7 separate regions of the Homo sapiens genome follow, and all the other regions are reported to be linked to region 1. The links are microRNA targets in miRTarBase. Many come from high-throughput screens and were not tested one by one. Region 1 holds a microRNA gene; each other region holds the end of a gene's coding sequence.
The links. The annotated mature microRNA hsa-miR-1914-3p reads GGAGGGGUCCCGCACUGGGAGG and lies in region 1 at 2,127-2,148, shown strand. An mRNA with a match to its seed (bases 2 to 7 or 8) in the 3' UTR can be bound and repressed. Matches are read on the target gene's strand: a 7mer-m8 pairs with bases 2 to 8, a 7mer-A1 pairs with bases 2 to 7 and ends in A, and an 8mer does both.

Region 2: the mRNA of APEX1 is a reported target of hsa-miR-1914-3p. Seed matches in the 3' UTR shown: 7mer-A1 at 929-935.
Region 3: miRTarBase lists ARHGEF2 as a target of hsa-miR-1914-3p. Seed matches in the 3' UTR shown: 7mer-A1 at 1,418-1,424.
Region 4: the mRNA of ALDOC is a reported target of hsa-miR-1914-3p. Seed matches in the 3' UTR shown: 7mer-A1 at 1,941-1,947.
Region 5: the mRNA of ARRB2 is a reported target of hsa-miR-1914-3p. Seed matches in the 3' UTR shown: 7mer-A1 at 3,364-3,370.
Region 6: miRTarBase lists ANKRD11 as a target of hsa-miR-1914-3p. The part of its 3' UTR that is shown has no 7-base or 8-base seed match.
Region 7: miRTarBase lists GPN2 as a target of hsa-miR-1914-3p. Seed matches in the 3' UTR shown: 7mer-m8 at 2,203-2,209.

Annotation. Positions count from the first base shown.
Region 1 is chr20:63,939,464-63,943,621 of GRCh38, reverse strand. It overlaps MIR1914 (microRNA 1914), which reads left to right and starts at 2,078; the gene lies at 2,078-2,157. It overlaps UCKL1 (uridine-cytidine kinase 1 like 1), which reads left to right. Exons shown (of 15, transcript NM_017859.4): 9 at 2,414-2,512; 10 at 2,579-2,672; 11 at 2,766-2,828; 12 at 2,906-3,028; 13 at 3,137-3,244; 14 at 3,316-3,472; 15 at 3,567-3,793. The coding sequence ends at 3,646. It overlaps MIR647 (microRNA 647), which reads left to right and starts at 896; the gene lies at 896-991. RefSeq lists enhancers at 1-590, 591-1,304.
Region 2 is chr14:20,456,618-20,460,775 of GRCh38, forward strand. APEX1 (apurinic/apyrimidinic endodeoxyribonuclease 1) reads left to right here. Exons shown (of 5, transcript NM_001641.4): 4 at 51-243; 5 at 374-1,150. The coding sequence ends at 891. It overlaps PIP4P1 (phosphatidylinositol-4,5-bisphosphate 4-phosphatase 1), which reads right to left. Exons shown (of 7, transcript NM_144568.4): 2 at 4,038-4,158; 3 at 3,575-3,681; 4 at 3,011-3,116; 5 at 2,771-2,823; 6 at 2,589-2,679; 7 at 1,064-2,085. The coding sequence ends at 1,942. Among named protein-coding and RNA genes, the nearest start is that of PIP4P1, 2.7 kb to the right of the region's middle. RefSeq lists a silencer at 473-767 and an enhancer at 4,137-4,158.
Region 3 is chr1:155,944,683-155,948,840 of GRCh38, reverse strand. It overlaps ARHGEF2 (Rho/Rac guanine nucleotide exchange factor 2), which reads left to right. Exons shown (of 22, transcript NM_001162383.2): 22 at 826-1,987. The coding sequence ends at 899. Among named protein-coding and RNA genes, the nearest start is that of MIR6738, 4.6 kb to the left of the region's middle.
Region 4 is chr17:28,571,121-28,575,278 of GRCh38, reverse strand. It overlaps ALDOC (aldolase, fructose-bisphosphate C), which reads left to right. Exons shown (of 9, transcript NM_005165.3): 3 at 1-156; 4 at 273-327; 5 at 423-583; 6 at 702-785; 7 at 1,038-1,212; 8 at 1,345-1,544; 9 at 1,658-2,159. The coding sequence ends at 1,753. PIGS (phosphatidylinositol glycan anchor biosynthesis class S) reads left to right here and starts at 3,755. Exons shown (of 12, transcript NM_033198.4): 1 at 3,755-3,816; 2 at 4,091-4,158. The coding sequence starts at 3,783. RefSeq lists enhancers at 3,375-3,424, 4,115-4,158.
Region 5 is chr17:4,720,353-4,724,510 of GRCh38, reverse strand. ARRB2 (arrestin beta 2) reads right to left here. Exons shown (of 15, transcript NM_004313.4): 13 at 4,039-4,118; 14 at 3,871-3,925; 15 at 3,014-3,565. The coding sequence ends at 3,472. Among named protein-coding and RNA genes, the nearest start is that of MED11, 9.0 kb to the left of the region's middle.
Region 6 is chr16:89,264,792-89,268,949 of GRCh38, reverse strand. It overlaps ANKRD11 (ankyrin repeat domain containing 11), which reads left to right. Exons shown (of 13, transcript NM_013275.6): 13 at 287-1,320. The coding sequence ends at 472. Among named protein-coding and RNA genes, the nearest start is that of ZNF778, 49 kb to the right of the region's middle.
Region 7 is chr1:26,876,266-26,880,423 of GRCh38, forward strand. It overlaps GPN2 (GPN-loop GTPase 2), which reads right to left. Exons shown (of 5, transcript NM_018066.4): 5 at 1-3,484. The coding sequence ends at 3,412. It overlaps GPN2-AS1 (GPN2 antisense RNA 1), which reads left to right. Exons shown (of 2, transcript NR_199049.1): 1 at 1-45; 2 at 1,853-1,980. Among named protein-coding and RNA genes, the nearest start is that of GPN2-AS1, 2.2 kb to the left of the region's middle.

The DNA of each region.
Region 1 (4,158 bases):
AGGCACTTCCAACACCTCCAAGGAGCTCTGGGGTCTGGGCTGTGATCCAGCCAGGCAGCTGGCTCTTCCCCAGTCACAGAAGGGGTGGTGTGGAGTGGTCCCAGCCCTGCTTCTGCCTCCCCTTGCTGGCAGATGAGGACACTGAGGCACAGAGACGTGAAGTAGCTTGCCCAGCGTCACGGAGTCCTGACCCTGTCCTGGCCAGACTTTGCTGGAGGCTCCCCTGACTCCTGAGTCTGTCTATGGGATTTGACCCCAGAGAGCACAGCTGTCCTCCTGAGCCAGCACTGCCAGGCCTCTGGGGCAGTGACTACAGACATGTCCCAGCAGCCAGGGAGCCTGCTGTACCTCCTGTGCCCAGCCTCACGGACCAGTCAGCTTTCCCTGGTTGCAGGTGGAGGGCCTCGCGCCTGTCCTCCCACCCACCCGGGTCCTGCTTGCCCCAGCTCTGTCCTCGCAGCCCGCACAGCTCTGCCAGCAGGAACTGGGCAACTGCAGCAAGAAGCTTGGGCTGGGCCGGGGCCGCATCCCACTGTCCCTCCCCAAGGGCAGGCATGCAGGGGGGTCAGCCACAAGGGACCTGCCCTTCTCCCTGCCTTCTGTGGGTTGGGAGGCTCCTGACTGAGCCACCTGGAGGGAGAGCCCTCACATTCAGAGCCCTCCAAAGAGTTTGCCAAATGTTGGAAATGCCTCCAGGGCCCGTCCACCAGCCGTCCAGCTTCCGGTGCCTGCATGAGTCTCCGCTTGGCCCTCTCCTCGGCCTAGGAACCCGCAGGTCTTGTCCCGTCAGGTTCCTCCTGAAGCTTTTGTTCTGAGAGGAAAAACTTTCCAGGGTTTCAAACTTGGAAAAACACCTGAACGCAGCCAGACACATTTTCCGTCGTCTGGTCAGCCAAGGAAGTGTTGGCCTGTGGCTGCACTCACTTCCTTCAGCCCCAGGAAGCCTTGGTCGGGGGCAGGAGGGAGGGTCAGGCAGGGCTGGGGGCCTGACCGCCCACACTCCTCCTCAGGCCTGCGGGGAACGCCCTGCTCCCCAACTAAGCAGCCTTCTCTTTGTTCTCTTCCTTCTCTCTGTAAACCCCCGTTTCCTGCCTTGTTCCCTCCCTGAACATGCTCTTCACCTGGCAAGCAGAGGAAGCTACGTTGGGATATGTGAGCAGTGTGCTCCGTGGTGCTGCTGTGTGACCCGCCTTCCCGTAGCCCCTTGCCCCGCTGCTCCCGCTAGGCCCTCTTTCCTGCTCCTGCCCCGCCCCTTTCCCTGCCGCTGTCACGCCTCTTTTCTGCCCTGCCACACCCCATTTCCGGCCCCGCCCCTTTCCCTGCCGCTGTCACGCCTCTTTTCTGCCCTGCCACACCCCATTCCCGGCCCCGCCCCTTTCCCTGCCGCTGTCACGCCTCTTTTCTGCCCTGCCACACCCCATTCCCGGCCCCGCCCCTTTCCCTGCCGCTGTCACGCCTCTTTTCTGCCCTGCCACACCCCATTCCCGGCCCCGCCCCTTTCCCTGCCGCTGTCACGCCTCTTTTCTGCCCTGCCACACCCCATTCCCGGCCCCGCCCCTTTCCCTGCCGCTGTCACGCCTCTTTTCTGCCCTGCCACACCCCATTCCCGGCCCCGCCCCTTTCCCTGCCGCTGTCACGCCTCTTTTCTGCCCTGCCACACCCAATTCCGTGCCCTGCCTCTTTCCTTCCCCTGCCACACCCAATTCTGTGGCCTGTCGCTTTCCTCTTCCTGCCCCTGCATCACCCCCTTTCCTGCCCCGCCCCATTCCCTGCCCCTGTCATGCCCCTTTCCGGCTTTGCCTCCTCCCTGTCCCACCTCTTTCTTGCCTCCACCCCGCCCTTTTCCTGCCCGCTCCTAGACCTGCTGCTGCCCCGGCCATCCCCAGGCTTGGGCAGCGGGGCGGGACGGGACAGCCAAGAGACACTGAGCCAGCTTTGCCCCCCACCCCCCTCTCTTGAGGGGCCGCGCACCACCTCGGGGAGGAGCCAGGGCGGGGCCTGACCCCACAAAGCTTTAGTTCCCCCGGGGAGAGGCTGGGGACAAGCTACCCATTCTGGGGTATGACACCTATCAGCACGTGTGAGCCCGCCCTGTGCCCGGCCCACTTCTGCTTCCTCTTAGCGCAGGAGGGGTCCCGCACTGGGAGGGGCCCTCACAGCCTACCCCGCTAGCTTTCTGCCTGATGGTGAGCTTGCCCCGTTGTTCGCCGCCATCTTTCGCCTTTGCCTGACAGCTCAGGTAGGGCGACGTCTCCCCCCAGCTCAGCCCCAGGCAGAAGTCAGGCCCGCTCTGCACCTCGTGCTGTGCCTGGCCCGTGTGTTCCCCTCACAGTGACGCACAGCCGTCCTGTGGGGAGGGAGGGCTCTGGGAAAAGACCCCCTTCTTGAGTGTTCCCCATCGGTTTGTCCCCAGGGCTGCGCTGGCCTCGGCACACCAGTGCCACCCGCTGCCCCGGACGCTGAGCGTCCTGAAGAGCACGCCGCAGGTACGGGGCATGCACACCATCATCAGGTGAGGGCCCACCTGGGGACGGGGCGGCCCCGGGCGCGTGCTCCCGCTCAACTGTTGGCCCCACAGGGACAAGGAGACCAGTCGCGACGAGTTCATCTTCTACTCCAAGAGACTGATGCGGCTGCTCATCGAGCACGCGCTCTCCTTCCTGCCCTTTCAGGTTCGTAGCCCGTAGCCCGCGAGGTGGAGGGTGGGTCTTGGAGCCGGTGCGAGCTCCCTGCGCTCACCGGAGTCCTCACCCTGCACCCCACAGGACTGCGTCGTACAGACCCCGCAGGGGCAGGACTATGCGGGCAAGTGCTATGCGGGGAAGCAGGTACCTGCCTGGGCACACCTGGGCGCGGGACAGGCTGCTGGGGCGGGATGTGGGCGCTTAGCCTCCCCTCCCCGCAGATCACCGGTGTGTCCATTCTGCGCGCCGGTGAAACCATGGAGCCCGCGCTGCGCGCTGTGTGCAAAGACGTGCGCATCGGCACCATCCTCATCCAGACCAACCAGCTTACCGGGGAGCCCGAGGTGCCTGGGGGCAGCCGGGGTGATGAGCCCGGGGGTAGGGGGCAGAGGGAGCTCACAGCAAGGGGACGCAGGGAGCCCCACCTGCAGCCTGACCCCTGCTGCCCGCAGCTCCACTACCTGAGGCTGCCCAAGGACATCAGCGATGACCACGTGATCCTCATGGACTGCACCGTGTCCACGGGCGCGGCGGCCATGATGGCAGTGCGCGTGCTCCTGGTGAGTGAGCCCTGGGTAGGCGGGGCAGGTTCAGGCAGAGGTGGGATTTACCTGCCCAATACACTCGGTAGGACCACGACGTGCCTGAGGACAAGATCTTTTTGCTGTCGCTGCTCATGGCAGAGATGGGCGTGCACTCAGTGGCCTATGCATTTCCGCGAGTGAGAATCATCACCACGGCGGTGGACAAGCGGGTCAATGACCTTTTCCGCATCATCCCAGGCATTGGTGAGGCTGCCCGGGCCCTTCAGCCGCACATGAGGGCAGGGTGGGTGGCCCTGGGAGGCCCCACCACACTGGACCCCCCCCCCCCTTTTTCCAGGGAACTTTGGCGACCGCTACTTTGGGACAGACGCGGTCCCCGATGGCAGTGACGAGGAGGAAGTGGCCTACACGGGTTAGCTGCCCAGTGAGCCATCCCGTCCCCACCACCCTCCTCCTGCCTCCTGACCCAGGACTGCTGAATACAAAGATGTTAATTTTTAAAATGTTACTAGTATAATTTATTCTATGCATTTTATAAAATAAATAAAGCTTTAGAAAAATGAAGGTGTGATTGGTTACAGCACAGGAGAGGTGTCCTGGCTGAGGCATGCATTTGTGGAGACTCCCATGGGGAGGGAGGGAGGGAGCTGAGGGCCCTGCCTTCTCCCCTGCAGGACCAAGCATTCCCAGTCTTGCACTTGTGCCAGATGAAGGAAGGGGTAGAACTGGGCCCTGCAGCTCCTAGCTCTGCTAGATGGGGCCCCTAGAACCCATAGCTTGGTGGCCACCTGGCCTGGACCTAGGGAGGGGACAGGGCCCCCTGGTGCTCTGGGTCTCACAAGAGGCAGGCTGTTTTGCCCCCACCCACAAATTTGTACCATCAGGGTCCTCCCCACAGTTGGGGGGGGGGAGGGTCCTTCCCGTCAGGA
Region 2 (4,158 bases), not on the chromosome of region 1:
ATGTTCTGCTGAATTGATAATACGTTTTCCACCTTTCTTTTCACTTACAGTGGGTAAAGGAAGAAGCCCCAGATATACTGTGCCTTCAAGAGACCAAATGTTCAGAGAACAAACTACCAGCTGAACTTCAGGAGCTGCCTGGACTCTCTCATCAATACTGGTCAGCTCCTTCGGACAAGGAAGGGTACAGTGGCGTGGGCCTGCTTTCCCGCCAGTGCCCACTCAAAGTTTCTTACGGCATAGGTGAGACCCTATTGATGCCTAATGCCTGAACTCTTCAAAACCAATTGCTAATTCTCTATCTCTGCCCCACCTCTTGATTGCTTTCCCTTTTCTTATAGTTTTTTATGCTAATTCTGTTTCATTTCTATAGGCGATGAGGAGCATGATCAGGAAGGCCGGGTGATTGTGGCTGAATTTGACTCGTTTGTGCTGGTAACAGCATATGTACCTAATGCAGGCCGAGGTCTGGTACGACTGGAGTACCGGCAGCGCTGGGATGAAGCCTTTCGCAAGTTCCTGAAGGGCCTGGCTTCCCGAAAGCCCCTTGTGCTGTGTGGAGACCTCAATGTGGCACATGAAGAAATTGACCTTCGCAACCCCAAGGGGAACAAAAAGAATGCTGGCTTCACGCCACAAGAGCGCCAAGGCTTCGGGGAATTACTGCAGGCTGTGCCACTGGCTGACAGCTTTAGGCACCTCTACCCCAACACACCCTATGCCTACACCTTTTGGACTTATATGATGAATGCTCGATCCAAGAATGTTGGTTGGCGCCTTGATTACTTTTTGTTGTCCCACTCTCTGTTACCTGCATTGTGTGACAGCAAGATCCGTTCCAAGGCCCTCGGCAGTGATCACTGTCCTATCACCCTATACCTAGCACTGTGACACCACCCCTAAATCACTTTGAGCCTGGGAAATAAGCCCCCTCAACTACCATTCCTTCTTTAAACACTCTTCAGAGAAATCTGCATTCTATTTCTCATGTATAAAACTAGGAATCCTCCAACCAGGCTCCTGTGATAGAGTTCTTTTAAGCCCAAGATTTTTTATTTGAGGGTTTTTTGTTTTTTAAAAAAAAATTGAACAAAGACTACTAATGACTTTGTTTGAATTATCCACATGAAAATAAAGAGCCATAGTTTCAGCCTTGCTGTCTTCGTGTCTTACCCCTTCGTGGGGCTACACATTCTCTTCCTCATATTTTCATGCACACAAGTTAACAACTGAAAAAGCGTAGAGTCATGACCTTATTTATTTACAAGCACAGGATAAGTCCCTAACCTCCCCCAAAGACTGAGCAACCCTACCCAGCCCAGTTAAATACTGCAACTGGGGGGGTAAAAAAGGTCGGGAGGAGGAATTAAGGGAAATACAGGAATAGGGGAACATATCCCACATTAAATAGTTATATACACATCAGTTCCTGTGGTTCTGTACAGAGCAGCGGCTGACCCCACCCCCACAGGACACAATGTGGGGAGAGGAGACTGAGGGTACTGAGGCCAGAGCCAACCTCTGGTGAAGTGCAATAGCAGCAGCAAAGTCCTAATGGTGCACAAGAGGGAGGGGAACCCCCAGGGCTACCCACCCCCACCCTGCCCTGGAATGTGTAAGGGACAGGAATGGCTCTCAGGGAGCACACAGGAAGGACAAGGCTGGAACCGTCTTCAGGGCCCAGTTTTAAGGGCAACGTTTTGCCTACTTCACCCTAGACACAGCAACCCTTGGAGGAAAGCAGATGGTCAGCAGTGCTCTTATCTGCCCCTCCAAACCTAAGTGAGGGCCTGGTTCCTTCCTACCTCTCCCCAGGGAAAAGGAAGGCAGCTGCTTGGCTTCCTTCTAGAAGCCCCGGGAGCCTTTAACTACCCCAGCTCCCTTCGTAGTGTCACTGTCCCCACCAGGGAGGGGCCAGGCACAGTCTGTGGGTCATCAGGCTCAGGAGAAGTTCTGGACAGGGTGGCTGACCTTCATACAGGCCCAATAAAGAGCCCGGCCCAAACACAGCACAGCCAACAGGATGACAAATGCCCAGGCTGCATAGATGCCTCCATATCGCCGTGCATGCTTCCATGTGCCAAACTGATGAAGATAAGGAGGGAGAAGAAAAGAAAGATGGGGTTAATGTTGGTCTCCACTACCTCCTATTAGTTCTAAGAACAGTAATAACTCACGCTTCAGTCCTTGTTCCTTATCCACATGTAGCCACCCTCAGGGACCTTCTTAAAGGCAGAGCTGATCAGCTTCCTTCCCTTAGGCGTAACATACTCATCCCATCCCACACTGTATCTCAGTTTTTCTTAATATCTGACAACTGAGCCAGGTTTGAAAAATAGCAACTCTTAAATTAAGAATTTCACTGTCCTATCCTCATCCTACAGAGAAAGGAAGGCTGTTTTTCACTCTTGTAGTAGTAATAAAGTCTGTTTGATCAGCCACTTTGCACTTTAGCTCATCCATATCTTAAAACAAAACAAACTAGTCCCCCAAGTTTCTTCCACTTTTTTTTAGGGTAGCAGTTTCCCAAATCTTAGCCTATGGAGATGAGGCTGCAGAATGAAAGAGGTTGGGGCAAGGGTACTCACGGCAAGGCCAGTGGCAGTGACTGCCAAAAGCAAGCCAAGCAAGAAGCAGCAGATACATCTCTTACGTGGGTATCTGCGCCCAATAGATGACCTGTGGGGAGGCAAATAGAAATGGATGCTTTCTATGGCCTTGTAGTTTTTACTCCATACATCAATTACCAGCTCAATCCCTAATCACTTACACTTTCCTGCAGTGAGGACAACGTGCCAAAGTGCGGTCTGTGAACTCTGTCCACTATGGAGAAAGAAAACAAAAATAATAGCACAAGCAGGGTCTCCCTCAATGAGAACCTTGGGGTGGGGATGCAGAACATGTTCCCATAGGACAGACCTTTCAGGGGTCATTACCATTACTCTAAGAAATATACTCGAAATGACTCTTAGTCTCCTTTCCCCTCCCCTTCCCAATACCCCTTCCTCACCAGAAAAGTATTCTTGCAATGTCCACAGATAACCCTGACACCCATGGGTTGGGGTTCTGGACTCAGAGGTCCGGGATGCACAGGCCCCAGGTTGATGATTCTTTTGCTATACAAAAGAAAAAGACTTGTATTTTCAAACTTGTGTTTGAAAAATTTTTAATCCTAAAAATCTTCACAGTCCCTGTTCCACATCCCCCACTCCCTGTCTATTAAGTCACTCGACTTCTCTGTACTTAAGATACTCTGTCCCCCAACTGTATACCCTCAAGAATCCTTGAGAAAGAAAGAGCACTGTTTAAACTTCAGGTCCCCAATTCCCCTCCGACCTCAGGATAACACACCCAGTCCCCAAGGCTCTCTATTCTCCGAAACGACATCATTTCATCTCAATATTTTTATTGAGAAACGAGAAAGACAGCTATAACATTCCTGAGGCACATGCTTCAAAGCCTTTTCTCCTAAATAAACACTAGGCTCTCTCACCTTTACATTCTCTGTATACGCTCATCCTTTTTTGACTTTCCAGTTCCCCACTTAGGCCCTTCCCCACCTTATGCCTCTTACCAGTAGGGCCGAGGGCATGCAATCCGTTGGGATGTCACTTTGCAGATAAGGAGACAGTTACAGGGGCATCGAACATATTTTTTCCCTGGGGGTGCATTCTTGATTGGCTAGAGAATAATAGGGTCATCAGCAAGCAAACCTCTAATCCCAATCCCCTCCACTTCCCTCCAAAAACACTTTATGAGATCAGAAAAATAAGGTGCTAACCAGGAAGGAGAAATAAAAGAAAGACTATATCATGAGATTTGCAAATAGGAACTAGGCTAGGTGTAAAAGTGAGAGAAAGTGAACATTAGCTTTGGTGAGTGGCTTCTGGGGAAATGGCTGTGTGAGACACCTGGAACTGAAACCTGGGTATCATCAAAAGCACTTGGCTAATAGCCGGAAGGTCAGGGTCTAGAACCAAGACATCAGAAAGAGGATCCAGGAAACAGGGCCCATTTCATAGATATGTGTAACTCACGGTGGCTTCATTGCAGACACCACATTTGACTACATGCTGATGCATCTTGCCTTCCACGTTGATGAGAGATTGGCAGACTCGGCAGGTGATCATAGGGGCACTCCCACTGTCCGGGCTAGTT
Region 3 (4,158 bases), not on the chromosome of region 1:
CTCCAGCCTGGGCGACAGAAAGAGACCCGGAGACCCAGACAGAGGATCTCACTCTAAAATTTTTTATGTTAGAGAGAGGGTCTTGTGCTGTTGCCGAGGCTGGACTCAAACTCCTGGGCTTAAGTGATCCTCCCAAGTAGCTGGGGCTACAGGTACATACCACTGTGCCTGGGAAGGTATAGTTTTTTGTTTTGTTTTGTTTTGTTTTTTTTGAGACAGTTTTGCTCTGTCACCCAGGCTGGAGTGTAGTGGCACAATCTCAGCTCACTGCAACTTCCACCTCCCAAGTTCAAGCAATTCTTGTTCCTCAGCCTCCCGAGTAGCTGGGATTACAGGCGCATGCCACCACATATAGCTAATTTTTGGCATTTTTAGTAGAGATGGGGTTTCACCATGTTGGCCAGGCTGGTCTCCAACTCCTGGCCTTAAGTGATTCTCCCACCTTAGCCTCCCAAAGTGTTAGGATTATAAGCACGAGCCATGGGGCCAGTTTTTAAAGTAAAAAAAGTTTCAAAGAACTTCAAGTTTTTACAGTTGGTTCATGAAATAAAAAATTACCAAAAGCTTTAACCTTAAAGTATTTTGTATTTTCCTAATCAAATTGTATCTTTGGATACTGTAAAAGTGTATCCGGTACCTAGGTATGGATACCTTGCTTACTTTGTTGCCAAAGGTTTTCCTCTCACCCAAGAATTTACAGAACCCTGTCATCCCTTCACAGCCCCAGAGCCCCCTGAGCCTGCAGATGGGGAGGCATTAGTCTAGGGGTACAGTTCCTCATGGGAGTCTCTGCTAACTCACTGGCTTTGTCCTGTCCCCCTTCAGACTTTACCAGAATGCAGGACATCCCGGAGGAGACGGAGAGCCGCGACGGGGAGGCTGTAGCCTCCGAGAGCTAAGGGGGCCCCTCCCCCCTGCCCCGTGCCCCACTGAAGAACATTACTGAGGGGGCTAACCTTGGGGACTCCAATTTGCCAATGATGAGGGAACATTTGAAAGAACTGCAAATTGTCCTTGCCAGCTCTTGGGATCCTTGGATACCTGGGGCCATTTAAGAAGCTAGGGGAATTAGGCCACAACACCCCCTGGGACATCCGAAAGCTACACCACAGATGCCAGTGGTTCATGCCTTCTTCCCGCAACTTTAGGAAAATTTATTTATTTATTGTTTATTAGTTATGGGGGGAGAGGGGAGATTTAAAGGACCAGGGACATGGGAACCAAGCCATAGGGATCAGAGGGCCTTGTCCTTGAACACTACTGGGGTATATTCAGGCTCATCCACGCAGCTGCTGGGTTCTTGCCCTAACGGCCCTCCCCTGCAACATCCGTCTTGGAGGAGAGGCTGCAGCCACAGCACCCTACTGCCCTTTAAATAAAGGAGGGCTGTGGGCAGGGCCATGTCCCTTTCTCCTCTCCCCTCAACCTCTTACTGCTGTTCTCCCTTTCTCCGTCCTTCATGGAAGCCCTGGGAGATAACCTGGCTTCCTGGAGTTGATGGAATAAAGGTTGGGGTGGCCATAATGGTTTGTTGGGGGTGAGGGAAAAAACCCACAGGGACCAGAATGTTTTGTTGTTCTTTTGTTTTCTTTTTTGTACCAAAGTCAACTGCACGTGTTTTATATTTTTAAGAGATCGTAGGCAATTAGAGATCGAAGCCTCCTATCTCCACATCTCTGAAGAAGTTGAGGGGTGGGGGAGAGAATGACTTCTGCCTTCATCTGCAGTAACGGGGGGACCTATACTGACCTCTTCCCCAGCCATTTAGAAACAAGTTCTAGGGTGGGTTGGAAAATCTCCAAGAGCCCTGACCTCATCTTCCACCTCAGCAACCATGACCTGAAACCTCAGCGTGAATTTGGGGGATTTTTCAGTGGAACCCTTGCCCCCAAATGTCGACCAGCCCCCAAATGTCGAAGAATTTTCTTCTTGCCAATTTTGTTGTTTAAAAAAAAAATTCAGGGAAAATTAAAAACCTGGAACTCCATAAGGTACTGTCTTCCATAATGTCTGCCAATTCTGAGGAGGATGGTAGTAGAGAGCCGGGCAGTGACCTAAGTTCCTCTGAAAGGGGCCTTTTCCTCTCACCGCAAGGACAGCCTCTGCCTCACTGAAGAGAGGGGGCACTAACAAAAGTAACCACTGCAAATCTTTTTTTTGTTTTTTTAATTCACAAATACAAGGATAAAAACAAAGGGGCACACAGGTTCCAATGTTGGGAATTCCGGTATCAGGAAAAGTGTGTTCATCGTATTTGTATGCCATGCTCAGCAATCACCTCCACCTATTGCCCCCATCCCCAGTGTCATTCATTGTCAGATCCATCCCCCACTAGGCCCTTGTTGATCTCCATGATGTCGGGCCCTGGGGTTACCCGTCACAGGAGCTGCTCATTTACTGTCCCTCTTTGAGAGGCAGTGAGAGATGAGCTGGTTTCAGTTCTTGGTTTTAGTTGGTTTTACTTCCTGTTCCCAGTTGGTACTTACTTTGGGGCTGTGGGGGAGGGGAGGAGGTGAGAGTCTAGGGTTGTATAAATGCTGGTATGAATTCACATCCCTGTTGGAGCCTGTGGGGTCAGATCAGGAGAAGGGGGCTCAGGCCCTCAGCTAGAAAGAGGAATTGAAGTCACATGGGGAGCAGGCTGGGGGAGCAGCCAGCACCCTCCCCTTCTGTAACTCTCATCCACCAGCATCAAGCCTTTACAAGGTGCTTTCTCAGCCATTACGGGGATCCTGAGAATGGGGAATTGTTCTCATTTTATGGGCCGGGAAACCTAGGTGCACGAAGCTTGCCAGGCCAGGAGGGGGCCGGCCTTCTTAGTTCCAGTCCACCACTTTTCTCTCTTGGCTACTCTGCCTAAAAATACCAGGGCTGGCTGGGTGCAGTGGCTCACGCCTATAATCCCAGCACTTTGGGAAGCTGAGTTGGGTGGATCACTTGAGGCCAGGAGTTCGAGACCAGCCTGGCCAACATGGTGAAACCCCATCTCTACTAAAAATACAAAAATTAGCCGGGCGTGATGGCGGGCACCTGTATTCCCAGCTACCTGGGAGGCTGAGGTGGGAGAATTGCTTGAACCCGGGAGGCAGAGGTTGCAGTGAGCCGAGATTGTGCCACTGCACTCCAGCACTCCAGCCTGGGTGACAGAGCAAGACCCTGCCTGGAGAAAAGAAAAAAAAAAAAACACCAGGGCTTCACATTTCACACACAGGGACACAGGGCTCAGCAGCTGTCTTCCAGGTCAGCTGGAAGTATCTCCGACCCAGAGCTGTGAGGGTGGCACCTTTAGGTGGGGAAGGAAGGTAGGTGGGGGTAGGGTGAGGATATTAGACAGCATGCAGAGACCACCAAGAAAGGGGAATGCAGGCTCTCCCAGAATGCCCCACAGATCCAATGAGAGATGCTGGTCAGCAGAGAACATGGAAACCTGGAGACACAGCCCAGAGTGGGTGTGAAGTCCCCCGCTGCTTTCTTTGAAGCAGTGCTGTCCCTTCTGCCACCCCGTACCAACCCCCTCCACACACACACACACACACACACACACACACACACACACACACCTTCAGCCCCAGAACATGGGGCACAAGCATTTGTCTGATGTGTCTACTCCTGAGAGCTAGGCCTCTTCCTCACATCTTTCACCGTTGTGTCCCCTGTCCCCTCCCTAACCCACTTTTGGGAACCCACAGTCTTAACCTCTGTCCCTCCTGCTGAAGTTTCAAAGCCATTTGGCTTGGTGTTCCAGGGAGCCAGGGCCCAGGTTCTCACCAAAACATTGCCTTCCCTCCGTTCCAAGGGGAGCTCCAGGCCGCCTGCTCTGCCCAGCCCTCCCTTCTCCATCCTCCACTGCACCCTCCTCGTTCCACTCCCCCACAAGAGTAGGTCTTTGTGCATGCAGTTCATCTCTAACTTGGACCTGTGTACACTTTGTCAATATTTACCTCTGGGGCCCATAAAGCAGAGATGCCCCCAGAGGAGCCAATATCCGGAGCCCAGCAAAGCCATCAGAGGGAGCTGCTGGGGTGGGAAGATGGGTGCTTAGGTGGTGAGGGATTTTCCATTGCCTGCATGGGCTAGGAATAGACGTGGAGTTTTGGAACTAGTTTAAACATCATCAAAAAGAGGAAATTAAACAAGAGGCTAATTAAGTTCCTTTCA
Region 4 (4,158 bases), not on the chromosome of region 1:
CGGCTGTACCGCCAGGTCCTGTTCAGTGCTGATGACCGTGTGAAAAAGTGCATTGGAGGCGTCATTTTCTTCCATGAGACCCTCTACCAGAAAGATGATAATGGTGTTCCCTTCGTCCGAACCATCCAGGATAAGGGCATCGTCGTGGGCATCAAGGTGCAGCCCCTGGCCCTGCTCTGAATGGAAGCTGGGTGTGAAAATAAGCTTGTGTAGGAGGGGTAGCAAGGAGAATCCTGCCTGGATTCAACCCTCTGCTTGTACTTCCTCTACAGGTTGACAAGGGTGTGGTGCCTCTAGCTGGGACTGATGGAGAAACCACCACTCAAGGTATAGGATGGGTGGGCTTGAGGACCAAAGAGGTGTTAGATAGTTGATGCTGGTAAAAGAGGGGCAGAGTAATGAGGTTGGCACTGTGCTTGCAGGGCTGGATGGGCTCTCAGAACGCTGTGCCCAATACAAGAAGGATGGTGCTGACTTTGCCAAGTGGCGCTGTGTGCTGAAAATCAGTGAGCGTACACCCTCTGCACTTGCCATTCTGGAGAACGCCAACGTGCTGGCCCGTTATGCCAGTATCTGCCAGCAGGTGTGTGTGTTGGGAGGGTGGTGAGCTAGGTGCCCTGTATGCCTGGTGGGGAGAGAGTCACAAGGCTTTCTTCATCTCCCCTACTGCCCCTCCCAAGCATCTCTGCTCTTGCCTGCAGAATGGCATTGTGCCTATTGTGGAACCTGAAATATTGCCTGATGGAGACCACGACCTCAAACGTTGTCAGTATGTTACAGAGAAGGTGAGTCCACACCTGGGCACACAAACATACTGCAGGGACAGCTCGGCAGGAGTGTCTGTTCCCCAGAACCCCCAGCTTAGATCCAGGCACACTTTCCCCTAGCACTTTTTCACTTCATCCCGGCACAGGCCTGTGATCTGAGCCTGTACTGAGCCCTCACAGTCTGTGCCCATCTACCCCTACATAGGGAGCATCGAGCAGTAACCAGTGGGGGCCCAGACCCTTAGTAAACCTCCTCTAATCCCCACCCAGGTCTTGGCTGCTGTGTACAAGGCCCTGAGTGACCATCATGTATACCTGGAGGGGACCCTGCTCAAGCCCAACATGGTGACCCCGGGCCATGCCTGTCCCATCAAGTATACCCCAGAGGAGATTGCCATGGCAACTGTCACTGCCCTGCGTCGCACTGTGCCCCCAGCTGTCCCAGGTACTACCCAGCTCCCTAACCTGCTCCTATCCCTAAGGCCCATCTTCAGGTCCTTCTTGTGGCCTTCAGGGGTTCCCTATCCTGGAAAAATTGGGAGTGACCAGTCAGTTTGTCTTCTCTCCTCCACACTAGGAGTGACCTTCCTGTCTGGGGGTCAGAGCGAAGAAGAGGCATCATTCAACCTCAATGCCATCAACCGCTGCCCCCTTCCCCGACCCTGGGCGCTTACCTTCTCCTATGGGCGTGCCCTGCAAGCCTCTGCACTCAATGCCTGGCGAGGGCAACGGGACAATGCTGGGGCTGCCACTGAGGAGTTCATCAAGCGGGCTGAGGTTGGGAGCTACAGGTGGTGGTGGGTGGGGGCAGCACCCAGAGGCTATAGCCTGGGCAGGGCTTGGCACCTGTGGGCTGGCTCAGCCTGCTTACTCCACGCTCCCTTTTGCAGGTGAATGGGCTTGCAGCCCAGGGCAAGTATGAAGGCAGTGGAGAAGATGGTGGAGCAGCAGCACAGTCACTCTACATTGCCAACCATGCCTACTGAGTATCCACTCCATACCACAGCCCTTGGCCCAGCCATCTGCACCCACTTTTGCTTGTAGTCATGGCCAGGGCCAAATAGCTATGCAGAGCAGAGATGCCTTCACCTGGCACCAACTTGTCTTCCTTTCTCTCTTCCCTTCCCCTCTCTCATTGCTGCACCTGGGACCATAGGATGGGAGGATAGGGAGCCCCTCATGACTGAGGGCAGAAGAAATTGCTAGAAGTCAGAACAGGATGGCTGGGTCTCCCCCTACCTCTTCCAGCTCCCACAATTTTCCCATGATGAGGTAGCTTCTCCCTGGGCTCTCCTTCTTGCCTGCCCTGTCTCCTGGGATCAGAGGGTAGTACAGAAGCCCTGACTCATGCCTTGAGTACATACCATACAGCAAATAAATGGTAGCAAAACATTCTACTTTGCCTGTCTGTTTTACACATCAAATTCCCACCTCCCAGTTTCTGATCTCTGCTAATTCTATCTCTGGGCCCTCTGACTCTGGAGGTGGAGAGGGTGGGATTTGAGTCTTACTGGGCTTCAAGTTATGGAGGAAGGGCACATGCAGTCACCATCCCCAGCTCAGGCTCTTGCTCTCTTGATGTCCAAGTCTGGAGTGGGGCAATGAGGAAGACTGCAAGTCTTCTAGGGACTGCCACATCAGTGGCACTGGGCTGCAGCTACAGAAGTATGGAGTGAGGCCAAACTGGCAACTCCTGAAGGCAGATTTGTGCAAGGCTCAAAGCAGGGAGGCAGCAAGACAGGCTGGGATAAGAGTGGGTGGGAGTCTCTCCCATCTCGCAGTGTTAAGCCCAGCTGGGACCTGGTACCTTCCACTAGGGTGAGCCACACCAGTAAGGGCAAGCGAGCACCTGGACTCCCGCCCAAAGAGGAAAACCAAGGCTCTGCGGGCTGCCAGGGCTGAGCAGGGCATCTAGGAGGTTGCCAAGGGCTATGGCCCATTTTCATTTGGGGTAGAAGTGGGCACAAAGGGAGCCAATTGGAGGGTCTGGGTAAGGACAGCTCTGGTGAGGCCTGATGCTGAACTTTAACCACTGGGCTGGGTTGTGAGGTAGGCTGAGAACCTGGGTCTAAGCAGATAAAAAGAAGAGATAACAAGCTGCGTGTGTTCTGTGTCAACTGGGGAGGCTACAAATGCTCCACCCTGTGTGGCCTGACTTTATAATAACAAAAATAGCTTGCACATAGCACCAACCCTGTTCTAATCACTTTATATGTACTGACACATTTCATACAACTCTATAAAGTAGGTACTATTACTATCATCCCTATTTTAATAGAGAAAACAGGCACAGATAGGCACAGAACGATCTTCTCACGATCACTCACCTAATAAGTGATGAAGCCAGGATTTGAACCGCAGTGATCAGCATCTAGAGTCTGGGCTCATGACTTTTCAAGATTTTTAAGTGAAGTATTCTGAGTTTTCCAAGTTGGAAATGAATTAAAACGTATTTTAAAATAGCGAGAGAGCCAATTGTGCTAAAACATACTAGCTTGCTACCTCCGTGTTTGAGGCTTTGAGGAGAGGGCACCCTAAGAGGAGTTCTACGATAAGGATAATAAGACCGTGACAGTTGACGTTGAGGGCTTTCCGTGTGCCAGGCTCCTTACAAGAACGGCCTCATTTATGTAAATATCTCCATTTTCAGATGAGCCTCGGAGCTGCCTGTAGTTGCCCAGCTAGTATTTAAGGACTGCAGAGGTTGCGCTCTTGATTGCGGGGCTAGAAGTGTGTTCTACAGGGAAGCGGGGAACTTCGTTCCAGCAGCGCCGAAACCCGCACGGCCCCTAGGCTGTCCCTCCGCGCCCGGGTGACTTCCTTTCAGATCCCCAGCGAAGCTCCCAGCGGAGCCCTCCCACCCCTCGCCCGCTTGCTCCCGTCTGCGGGTCTGGAGTAGCGCTCGCGATTGGCCCCGATCACCGCCGCGGTCCTGCCCCCTCGTTGCAGAGATTCCGATTGGGTGAGGCTCACGAAGCTCTGCCCCCACGGTGGCCGGAGCAGCCGGAAGCTAGCATGGCGGCCGCCGGGGCTGCGGCTACACACCTAGGTGCGGTGGGCTTCGGGTGGGGGGCCTGCAGCTAGCTGATGGCAAGGGAGGAATAGCAGGGGTGGGGATTGTGGTGTGCGAGAGGTCCCGCGGACGGGGGGCTCGGGGGTCTCTTCAGACGAGATTCCCTTCAGGCTTGGGCCGGGTCCCTTCGCACGGAGATCCCAATGAACGCGGGCCCCTGGAGGCCGGTGGTTGGGGCTTCTCCGCGTCGGGGATGGGGCCGGTACCCTAGCCCGTTTCCAGCGCCTCAGTCGGTTCCCCATGCCCTCAGAGGTGGCCCGGGGCAAGCGCGCCGCCCTCTTCTTCGCTGCGGTGGCCATCGTGCTGGGGCTACCGCTC
Region 5 (4,158 bases), not on the chromosome of region 1:
TGTGATCCGCCTGCCTCGGCCTCCCAAAGTGCTGGGATTACAGGCATGAGCCACCGCGCCTGGCCATAAGCTGTTTTTTTTTTTTTTTTTTTTTTTTTTGTGTGGCTATTATAACTGACTACATGAAAATAAATATAAAAAATTTTCCTAGTGTATGAACCTAAAAAGCAAAAAGAATTTTTTTTTTTTTCTGAGATGGAGTTTTGTTCTTGTTGCCCAGGCTGGAGTGCAGTGGCACAATCTCAGCTCACTGCAACCTCCACCTCCAGGGTTCAAGTGATTCTCCTGCCTCAGCCTCCCGAGTAGCTGGGATTACTGGCGCCCGCCACCATGCTCAGCTAATTTTTTGTATTTTTAGTAGAGACGGGGTGTCACTATGTTGGCCAGGCTGTTCTCGAACTCCTGACCTCAGGCGATCCACCCGCCTCGGCTTCCCAAAGTGCTGGGATTACAAATCACAGGTGTGAGCCACTGCGCCCGGCCTTAAGAAAGACAATTTAAAAAAATTTATCTGTTATTGAAAATACAGGAAGCCAAATGTTTGGAAGTAGACAGAGGGGATTGTTGTACAACATTGTGAGTATACTAAATGCCATTGAATTAGACTATTTATTTATTTATTGAGAGAGAGTTTTGCTCTTGTCGCCCAGGCTGGAGTGCAATGGCGAGACCTTGGCTCTATAAAAATACAAAAATTAGCCAGGCATGGTGGCACGTGCCTGTAATCCCAGCTACTCGGGAGGCTGAGGCAGGAGAACGGCTTGAACCCGGGAGGCGGAGGTTGCAGTGAGCTGAGATTGCGCCATTCCACTCCAGCCTGGGTGACAAAGTGAGACTCCATCTCAAAAAAAGATAATAATAAATAAGTTAATTAAATAAATAAAAAGGGCAGTTTCTCAAAGTGTGTACTAATTAAAAATCCGGATTTTTGGATTCTTCTTGGGACCTTGTGACTCAGAATCGGGAAAGGTGGAGCCCAACTCTGGATTTTTACCATGGCACCCCGAGGGTTCTGATTCTCCTGAAAAAAATTTGAGATCGGCCAGGCGCGGTGGCTCACGCCTGTAATCCCAGCACTTTGGGGGGCCAAGGTGGGCGGATCAGGAGGTCAGGAGTTCGAGACCAGCCTGGCCAGTATGGCGAAACCTTGTCTTTACTAAAAATACAAAAATTAGCCAGGCGTGGTGGCGTGTGCCTGTAGTCCCAGTTACTCGGGAAGCTGAGGCAGAAGAATTGCTTGAACCTGGGAGGCAGAGGTTGCAGTGAGCCAAGATAGCACCATTGCATTCCAGCCTGGGTGAGAAAGCAAGACTCCATCTCAAAAAAAAAAAAAAAAAAATTGAGATACCTGGGCTTAGAGGTCAAGGAGCAGGTGCACGGGAGTCGGAGGGATGCTGGAGATGGTATTAGGCGGGATGGTTCTTCCGTTCTTCCGCATGAGAAAGTCCAGGTTCTGCAGGGGAGGCTGCCGCCGTGGCGGGGTAAGCAAGGTCACGGGCCTTTTGGCAGTACTTAAAGCTTGTGGGTAAATGGCGATTTAACTAGAAGTCACGAGTCATAACATAGACTAAAGGCCTGTGCGAGCTGTCCCCATCTGGCTCAGCAGCCAGAAGGAACTACTTTGCCTCTGGCTGTCTCTGTCCCAGTCTCTCTGGCCTCTTTAGGTCCCAGATGTGTTGTTTCCTCCTGCCTTCACACGACACTGCCATTGCCCAGAATGCTCATCCCTGGACGGTCCCCGAACTCCCCTCATCTTTCACTTCTCTGCTTAAAGGTCACTTTCTCAGGGAAATCTTCCCCAAACCCAACCTAGCTCAGAACTCCCTGTCACGCGTTCTCCTGGCTCCAGTACTTCTCCTCTGAAGCAAAGATATTGTAGTTAAATAACTAGGGAGGCCTGGCGCGGTGGCTCACACCTGTAATCCCAGCACTTTGGGAGGCCGAGGCGGGTGGACCACTTGAGGTGAGGAGTTTGAGAACAGCCTGACCAACATGGCGAAACCCCATCTCCACTAAAAATACAAAAATTAGCCGGGAGTTGTGGCGGGCGCCTGTAATCCCAGCTACTCCGGAGGCTGAGGCAGGAGAATCACTTGTACCTGGGAGGCGGAGGTTACAGTGAGCCGAGATGGCACCATTGCACTCCAGCCTGGACGACAGAGCAAGACTCTGTCTCAAAAGAAAAAAAAAAAAAAGGGAATGAATTAATGTGTTTTTGTTGTTGTTGTTGTTGTTGTACTGCTATACTATGCCTGGTACTTTGTAGGGACTCAAATCCAGATTGTTTGTGGAATGCATGAAGGAGCTTTAGGAGAAAGATTGGGCTTCAGGAGTGGAAGCAGATGATGGAGGTGAGAAATGTTCGTGGAGTGATGCTACCTCCCTCCAGCCCAGCCTGGGGCTTCGGTCAAGCCTCAGGGAGTCCCTGATGAATATCCCATGAACAGCACTAAGATGTGGTCCCTAGGACAGGGGCCCACGGCAGCATGACGTTCTTGCTGCCCAAGCCTCAGCTTCTGTGTTAGAATGTAGGTACCAGACTCCAGAGACGTCACGTGGCTTGTCTGGTGAGGCCTGCGGTTGTGGCACCGCTGAGCCACAGGAGCAGATGGCTCGAGCAGCCATAAGGAGCAGTGGAAATGAACGCGACTCGGTCACAACAGGTCACAGGTGGTCATGTGCGTCGGCCGCAACAGGGAAGGGCCTGCCCTGGCTAGCTCCCGTGAGCATCTGTGTGCAGGCGAGTTAGTTTAGTTACTGTGACCTCTAGAAATGACTAAGTTCACTTTGTGGCCTTATCAAGCCTCACCCTTGAGTTTGGACTAAGTCAAGTTTTGATGTTTACCCTGGAACACAGCCACAGCACAGTCATCCAATAAACATTTGCTGATAGCCTCCGTGTCAGGTGGCTTTTGGGTGCAGAAGAGAGACTGGGTCCTCCCCCACAAGCTAACAGAATCATGGATAAGCACACCATACACTCTCTAAACACTACAGAGAAAACACACACTCATGCTTAGTAAAAGATTTATTTTCTTCTTTATGCTCAGAAACAAAGAAACGGCCTTGTCCCCAAAGGGTCTCCTCTTGAAGGAATGGGGGCAGAGAGAGTGATAATGGGAGGTGTTGGTGTGAGGTTGAGAGTAGGAGTTTTGTCTCCCCCTTTCCCTCCTGTCACTCCTCTTTTCACTGTCCCCTTCCAGAAAATTTAGGTATGAACACAGCTTGCCACCCACGGCGGGGCTGGAGAAGCAGAGCTGCAGTCAAAAAATTAATGCCCACATTCAGCAAGAGAGGGTCCAGTGTGTATCTTGGGGGGATGGGGGAGAGAGTGTGAAGGGATTGGTTGAAGAAGCTTCCAGGTGAGGGGAAGGGAAGAGGGGCTGGGACAATCCCCCATTGACAGTGGGGATCTTAATCCTGCCCTCACCTCTCCCAACCCCATCCCCTCCCTTCTTCCCACCCCGCTTCCTAGCAGAGTTGATCATCATAGTCGTCATCCTTCATCCCCTTCAGCCGAAGCCGGGCAAAGTCCTCAAACACAATGTCATCATCTGTGGCATAGCTTGGTGGTGGGAAAGAGGGTTGTGAGGTGAGGGCTTCTGACTCTTGTCCCAGCCTCCCACTCCCTGCCCTCCCCGAAGCTAGGCCTCTGGGACAGAGGCGTTCGAACAGCAGTGGGACCAGAGGTATTTACAGGAAGGGACAAAGAAAAGGCAGCAAGAGGCAGCCTCACAAGGCTAAGGCATCTTGATTTGATGCTACAATCCGCTTCTCCCCACCAAAAGCAAGGAAGAGGTATGAGGGCAGATTTGAATGTTATAGGAATCTTTGTCCCAAGAGGGTCAAGTAGGGGAATGAGTTTCTTACTTGGTATCAAATTCAATGAGGTTGGTGTCCACAGGGACATCTGTCTCCGGAGCGGCTGGGGGGACGGGAAGAGGGGGTGTGGGGGTGGGTGCTGGAAGGGCCAGTTTTCCTCCACTGGCCCTGCTTCAGGCCCTCCCTCTGAGGGCTTGGGGTGGGTAGTGTGCTCACCTGACTGGGGTCTGGGGAGGGGGATGTGGTCGTGGGGCTTGGGGTGCATAAGAACAAAAGGCAGCTCCACAGAGACATCCCTGGGGAAGGGGAGAGGCATCGTGAAGAGGACGACGACAT
Region 6 (4,158 bases), not on the chromosome of region 1:
GTCCCAGGCCCACCCAGAGCAGGGCAGGGCCCCCGGGCCAGGGTGAGCCCCAGGCCAGGGTAGAGGTGGCATAGACAGCGGTTATGGGGACAGACATGTAGCACAGCTGGCGCTACCGCCACGTGTAGTAACTAGATGCCAGGAGCGGGTACAGCTGGGCCTGGCCCATACCAGGGTAGGTTCACGGCCGTATCACGCCCTTGGCCCTGCTGGCAGCTGAGGTCGGCAGAGTCTGGGGCTCTCCCTTCACTCCTCCTCCCTCCTCTCCCCGCTGTGTGTCCCGCAGACTTGCCTCCTCATGCGGCAGCAGCACGAGGCCGCGGCCCTGAACGCCGTGCAGAGGATGGAGTGGCAGCTGAAGGTGCAGGAACTGGACCCCGCCGGGCACAAGTCCCTGTGCGTGAACGAGGTGCCCTCCTTCTACGTGCCCATGGTCGACGTCAACGACGACTTTGTATTGTTGCCGGCATGACACCGCGGGACGGCCGCAGGACGCAGGCGAGGGCCGCACGGCTGCCCAGGACTGCTGCTGAGCCCCAGGGGCGGAGGAGGGAGCGCCCTGTCCACCCGGGCGGGGAGAGACCCCGAGAGAGACTGCACTTGGCCACAGCGCCTCCATCCCTTCCAGACTGGTCCAGACGTCGGGGAGGTGAAACACGTCTCTTCTCTACCAGCTGCCGCGGCGGGGGCAAAGCCCCCAGAGCCTCACTGGCCCCGGCGGGATGAGGAGACCATGCCGGGCGCGCACACACGGCAGCTTCTGTTTGAAAACGGCGACCTTCGGGCCCTTTTCTCCAGCAACTGCAGAGGCATTTCAGGAGTTGGAGAACGGAGTACATTTTTAAAATTTTTTGTTCCATTCTGATCAACTAAAGAAAATTAAGGTGTCCACCTCTCACAAACAGTGACCTGCAGGTCGGAGGGGCAGGAGCCCCATCCCAGCCGTGGTTCTGTTGCCGCCGAGCTGCGACGGCCTCAGACTGGGCTTCAGACCTGGTGCGGAGCCAGGCGGAGGGACACAGAGCCAGGACTCCCAGCCGTATTGAAATGGAGTCAAATCCGCGTGGTTTGTATCTTCTTTCCTTTAATCTTGGGCATTTTGTTTCTCTTTCTGAGAACGTAACTTGAAACACTACAGAGCCAATAATCATATAAAAAGTGTATCCGTAAACGCTGTACAGTTTTATATACCTTCACAATGTACTTTTGCTGCCTTCTAGATAATTTATTTTGCAACACATTACTGCACAGTTGTAAATAACTTATGTACTGTAACATCACTTTCAGTTATGTGTAAAGAAATAAATAAATTAATTAAAATGCTCTTTGTACAGTGCGTCCCTCCAGGAGAGGGGCTGTGTGTGGGACTGACACAGTGTCGCCCCTCTCGACGACCTTCTTACTCCCAGGACAGACGTGGTGGCTCACGCCTGTAATCCCAGCACTGTGGGAGGCCGAGGCGGGAGTCTGAGACCAGCCTGCCCAACATGGCAAAATCCCCTCTCTACTAAAAATACCAAAAATTAGCTGGGTGTGGTGGCGCGCGCCTGTAGTCCCAGCTACTCCGGAGGCTGAGGCAGGAGAATCGTTTGAACCCAGGAGGTGGAGGCTGCTGTGAGCTGAGATCACGCCACCCTACTCCACAGCAGACTCTGTCTGAAAAAAAAGAAAACCTTTTTCCTACCAAGTTGTTAGCTTTTAATTTTGAAACAAATTATCTGTTCCCCTCGTCCTCTGCCTTTGCACAGACCGGGAATGCTGTGGAATTACTGCCTCTTGTAGGAGCTGGAGAGAAACAGGAGCATCACTCCCCACGGATCTGAGCACTGCAGCCGTGGCCAGACCCCGTGGCCAGCTGTGCACGCCCCTGAGCTTCAGCTTGTGGCTGGCTGGCTTGTGCCCCTGCCCACAGTTCCCTGGCAGCTGCAGCTGGTGAGGGTCCGCGCTTTGAGAGCCCTGTCCTGGCTGGAAGGCAGCTCAGGCAAGCATGGAGATGCGAGGCCTCTGCTCAGAGGATCTTGGCACAGAGGATGCCTGCCAGGACCCTCCAGCCAGTGTGGCTCCAGGAGACTGTTGGCCCCCGGCGTGACAGGAGGGTGAGCTGATGGAGGCGCCTCACCCTTTTCCTTCTGAGCTGTCTGTCCCCTGTACCTGGGTGCTGGGGAGGGAGTGGCAGCTACAGAAACAACCCCCACAGAAGAGCAGACACTGCCCGTGCATCAGAATCAACAGGGTCCTGGTCACTGGGTCCCCTGCGGAGGAGCCCGACCTGGGAGGGTCCCTGAGCCCTGCCAGGCTGAGCCAGTGGCGGGGGCAGTGGCTTCATTCCCCCAAAGGCTGCTGTGAGCTCCCTCGCCAGCTGGGCCCCTGCGTGGGGTTGGGGGTAGGCGTGGGGCCATGCCCCCTCTCCTGTCTTCGATCTGTGAACAGAACTTTTGTGGATTCCCTCCTGTTCCCTTCAGGGCTGAGCCTGAGCAAAGGCAGGGTTGTCCACCTCATTTACGGGCTTGGGGTGGGGGTGTGGAGAAGCCAGAAGGTTCCAGTCTATTTTTCTGGGTTCGGATTAGCTGTGGTTTGTTTTGGGGGCTTCGTGGGTTTTTGGGGGTTTTTTGCTTGCTTTTGAGATGGAGTCTTGCTCTGACCCCCAGGCTGGATGGAGCACAGTGGCGCAATCTCAGCTCACTGCAGCCTCCACCTCCTGGGTTCAATTCTCCTGCCTCAGCCTCCCGAGTAGCTGGGACTACAGGCGCCTGCCACCACACCCGGCTAGTTTTTGTATTTTTAGTAGAGACGGGGTTTCACCATCTTGGCCAGGCTTTTTGTTTTCTCCACACCCCCTCAATCACAGAACTTTGGTCACAGTAAAACTTCCTTTAAGCCCTGCCTTAAAAGAAAAACCTGAGTCAGCCTGTGTCACACAGAGCACGCTGCAGTTCCAGCCCACAGTGGTGACGACGTCCCGGCCACCATGCTGTGCCTCCCTGTCTCGGGTGCCCACGAGGGGTGTCAGGCGAGAGCAGCTCCCTTCCGGCCCCCACCCTGGTCTGCTGGAGTCTCGGCTCCCGTGCACCTGCCAGAGATGCCGCACATGCGACTCCCAAACAGCCTCCTGCCATAGGGGACGAGAGACAGCCTGCCGCCCCTCAGAGAGACTTGTGAATAAACACTGAGAAACGTCAGAGTACCCAGAACCGCAGGAGCCTGCGTGCCAGCCTGGAGACCCTGCTGCCCGGGGCCACCCATGTGGGCTTCAGACCGCTCTCGGGAGTCTCTGGCTGGAGCTGGAGGAAGATGGCGTAACCCCACTCGCTCAACTACATCCATGGACCCCAGCGCTACCCAGCTCCTGCCTGGGAGCCCGGGCTCTGGAGCAGGCTGGCTCTGAGGGTCCACCACCTGTAACTCAAGCCTTCCTGATGCCTTCCCTTCCGGAGGCTCTGAGGACTGCCATTAGCAAAAAAAAAAACAAAAAACAAACAAACCCAAAGCACAGAGCAGGTGAGTGCTCGGACCCTAGGCACTTCAGGGAAGCCAGCACCCCTCCCTGGCACAGGGTCCCCCTCTCAGGGAAGCTGGCGCCCCTCCCCGACACAGGGTTCCCCCTCAGGGAAGCCGGTGCCCCTCCCCAGCCGAGGGTCCCCCTCTTAGGGAAGCTGGCACCCCTTTCTGGCACAGGGTCCCCCTCTCAGGGAAGCTGACACCTTGCCAAGGCGTAAGGCCCCAGGCTTCAACAGAAAAAGGAAAGAAATATGGCGGCTTTTGCTGCTGTAGAAGAGAAGCTGGTGGCTTTTGTAAAACCTGGAAGGAGGTGAGAGGTTTTTGTGGAAAGCCCGTGAGCCGTCAGCTCCCCGCACAGAGAGCGCCTGCTCTGCCCAGGAGACCGTGCAGCATCTGGCAAGACAGGTCTCCATTCAGGGGTCGCCATTTCCAAGCGGCAGCTGGGCCTGGGCCTGAGCCTGGCAGGAGGGGAAGGGCCCCAGCACGTGGAGCCGCACACAACCTCCACCCACCTCCCCCCACACCAGGGAGCTGCTTTCCTCCTTCCCGCTGGGGGACAGCGAAGACAGTCTCACAGGAGAGTAGAAGGAACTGGGCCCAGCTTGGCTCTGTTGGAAAGCAGAATGAAATACTGAAGCTAGAGAGAGGGACCCACAGGCA
Region 7 (4,158 bases), not on the chromosome of region 1:
AGTGCAATGGCGCGATCTCCGCTCACTGAAACTTCCGCCTCCCAGGTTCAAGCGATTCTCCTGCCTCAGTCTCCTAAGTAGCTGGAATTACAGGCGCATGCCACCATGCCCTGCTCATTTTTTTGTATTTTTAGCAGAGACAGGTTTTCACCATGTTGGTCAGGCTTGTCTTACACTCCTGACCTCAGGTGATCAGCCCGCCTTGGCCTCCCAAAGTGCTGGGATTACAGGCGTGAGCCACCGTGCTCGGCCTTCTCTTTCATTTTCTAAGTTTTTTACTTTCCTATATTTATTAGGAAATTTAAAAATAATCTTAAGGATGACTGCCACATGCCAGCCATAATGGAGGATGGTCTTTCTTCTACCCTAGACATTTCACACTGAACAGGCCTCACTTGGATCTCGGACATCTTCCTTTCTGCACTGTGCAGATCCCCTCAGTATATGCAGAGAACAGAAAATCATTTTGCTGCCAGTGGAAGGTAGACAGAAGCTACGTTTATTGGGGAAGAAAATACCCTTGCTGTCAAACCATGGCCTGAAAATAAAGGCCTTGGATTACTCCCACCCATCTCCACTCCATGGGTGCAGAGAATGCTGAGGGTGCTTGCATACGAGACCATAAAGTTGTAAAGGATGCCTTCCAGCCCCCATTTGGTTTGTTATGGTGAGAGCTGGGGCCTCTGTGAGTGGCAAGCATCAAAACCCACGACCACAGCCGTTGGTACTGCTTTCAAAAGCATAGCACCCACCCTAATGCCCTGATAAAGGATTTGTCCAGTAGCCTGGGCGTCAGGATTCCTGGGCTCTAGGCCCCACAGGTGATTCACAGCTAGCCCCAGGCTGTGCCTCCTGGCCTCAGTTTTCCTGGCTTGCTCTATTGGTACTTCCTACCTACTCTGTGGGGTGTTAATAGGGGTGAGGTGCTTTGAACTTCTCAGATGAAAGAGGCTGGGAAGCAGCACCCAGTTATTATCCCCTTTACAGCCAGGCGTGGGAGCTGAGGTTGCTTTCATACTGTTCCAGCCACAGTAGCCTCCTCATAGCCCCTCATTCATCTGCCTTTGGCTCTGGCTGCCACAACCAGAAAGCAAAGCAGTCAGTCCTATTTCAATGCTGTTTCAGAACAGATGTCCCTAAATTAATTTGCCAACTGCCCAAACCACTGGTGAACTATCTATGATTCAGTAATACTTTACAGGTGCCTAATTTCTTTCTCCTGATTGGCTGCAAAACCTGTGGGACAAGGGCTGTGACTTCTCACCAATAAATATACCAAAGGAGGGATACTCGCAATTTAGTCAGCAAAATGGGTTATGAGAAAGCCAGGCTGACCAAAGTTCAAACTTCTCATCTTTCTGCTTCCTCACTGTAACACGGGCAATGGCTTATTAATTCTCCCCATCCTGTCTATCTCTAATGAGGATTGTGTGTGTGGAAGCACTCTAAAATACCAAGCACTTCATATGTGTTAATAAGTCCAAATGTGGCCGGGTGCAGTGGCTCACGCCTGTAATCCCAGCACTTTGGGAGGCCAAGGCGGGTAAATCATGAGGTCAGTAGTTCAAGACCAGCCTGAACAACATGGTGAAACCCCGTCTTTACTAAAAATACAAAAATTAGCCGGGCATGTGGTAGGCGCCTGTAATCCCAGCTACTCGGGAGGCTGAGGCAGAGAATTGCTTGAACCTGGGAGGCGGAGGTTGCAGTGAGCCGAGATTGTGCCACTGGACTCCAGCCTGGGCGACAGAGAGAGACTTTGTCTCCAAAAAAAGAAAGTCCAAATACATGCAAATAAAACTTGGCATAACAGTCTTGCCCAAGCCATCAGTCCTGCCCCTTCTGCCACCAGGTTACAACTGCAAAAAATTAGGTTGGGGTGCCACCTACTGGTTGAAAAATATATGAACTGCATCCAGCCAGTTGCAAGAGCAAAGAAAAAACTTCCAAGCCCTCTTGATTTTTGCCACACTCTCATAGGAACTGCCATATTATATAATTAATATTTTTCTTTACACAACTTACTATTTTTTTTTGAGACAGAGTCTTGCTCTGTCGCCCAGGTTGGAATGTAGGCACAATCTTGGCTCACTGCAACCTCCGCCTCCTGGGTTCAAGCAATTCTTCTGCCTCAGCCTCCCCAATAGCTGGGATTATAGGCGTGCAACACCATGCCCAGCTAATTTTTATGTTTTTAGTAGAGAGGGGTTTCACCATGTTGGCCAGGCTGGTCTCGAACTCCTGACCTCAGGTGATCCGCCCGCCTCAGCCTCCCAAAGTGCTGGGCTTACAGGCATGAGTGAACACGCCCAGCCTTGTATTTCATTTTTGAAGTACACCTTTTTTTTGAGACAAAGTCTCGCTCTGTCACCAGGCTGGAGTGCAGTGGTGCAATCTCAGCTCACTGTAACCTCTGACTCCTGGGTTCAAATGATTCTCCTGCCTCAGCCTCCCAAGTAGCTGGAACTACAGGTACGCGCCACCTATGCCCAGCTAATTAAAAAAATTTTTTGGTAGAGATGGGGTTTCACCATGTTGGCCAGGATGGTCTCGATCTCTTGACCTTGGGATCCGCCTGCCTCGGCCTCCCAAAGTGCTGGGATTACAGGCGTGAGCCACCGCACCCAGCCTTGAAGTAAACTTTTAACCACTACTGTAAATGGAAAACTAGTTAACACTTGTCAACAATAGAATAAAACCATAAAACAAATACAGTGAATATAAAACATTAACAAAGTTCTAGTTAGGAAGTGTTGCCTGTGAAAGCTGAAGCTTGAGGCTCTGTTAAAACTGAAAATTGTGGGACATGGTGGCTCACACCTGTAGTCCCAGTTACTCAGGCGTCTGAGGCGGGAAGATCACATGAGCCCAGGAGTTTGAGTCCAGCCTGGGCCATATAGCAAGACCCCATCTTTTAAAAAACAAACCTCAGAACCAAAAACTGAAGATTAATAAAAACACATGACTGGAGACTGAATGTAAATCCTATGTGACTGAATGTGAATTATATGCTTTGGGGAAATACTGATTATTCCAAGGCTAGGTGACACTCCCTCATTCTTCCCCAAACCCCTGGGCCCGGAAGACTGAAGAAAAGTTTGGAAGTCACAAAAAGTAGAAAATAAACTCTTGTATTGTAGCACATTTCATCACAGCCTGACTAGGACCAGTGCTCGACTTTCTGGTGGCAGGGCCCAGAGCTCACGGACACCACTGACAGTATGGGGGGTGTTCTGCTTGGCACCATGTCTGGCTTTTTGGCCAGAAGTCCTTTGCAGAGCTGAATATCCCCTTGCCAGCCCGCCAGCTCTGGCTGGGAGGACTTGCTCTTGGGTCTGCAGCCTGCATCAGGAGCCTCCACTTTCCCCAGTGCTGGATTATGCATCCTGCTCTCCAGGGTCCACCTTGTTGCTACAGCTGCATGGCTTCCTGCTCCACTGACTGGTTCGAGGGTGCCAGGTACTTCTCCTGGATGCCCAGTGTGCTGAGGAAGGGTGCGTCAAGGCTGATAGCATAGGCAGAGGATGGGGAGCTGGTCTGGGCAGGATCTGACTTCCGCTGATGCCTACACTCCAACCATGTCCATCCCTCTCTTCCTCATAATTATAGGGACCAATCAGGTATGAGAAGCCTCCAAAAACACCCAGACTCAAATGCTCCTCTATCTGCCTCTTCCACACACTGCTGCGGATCAAAGGACTGGACAGTACTAACCTTGCAATTTTGCGTTATGGCACATGCTCTGGAGCCAGACTAAGGGAGTTCAAAACCTGATGATGTCTGGGTCTGGGGTCTGACGAGGACATGGAGGTTAGCCATGGCTAGGTTGGCTATGTTAGGACACCATGGCTGTTGTACTACCAGATGGCTCCAAAGTAAGAAACAGATTCTACACCCACCAAAACCAAGGTTTGAACTGTTCTTCCAAAACATCCCGGGAGAGGGACCTTGGGCCTGTCGCCTCAATTATAAAAGGGGTTGAAATGAGGATTAAATGACCCTGCAAGTAAAGCACTTAGCCCACCAAATGATGTTCGAGTTACAGACCTTTCTTTTTCTTTTTTTTGAGACAGAGTCTCACTCTGTCACCAAGCTGGAGTGCAGTGGCGCGATCTCGGCTCACCGCAACCTCCAACTCCCTGGTTCAAGCAATTCTCC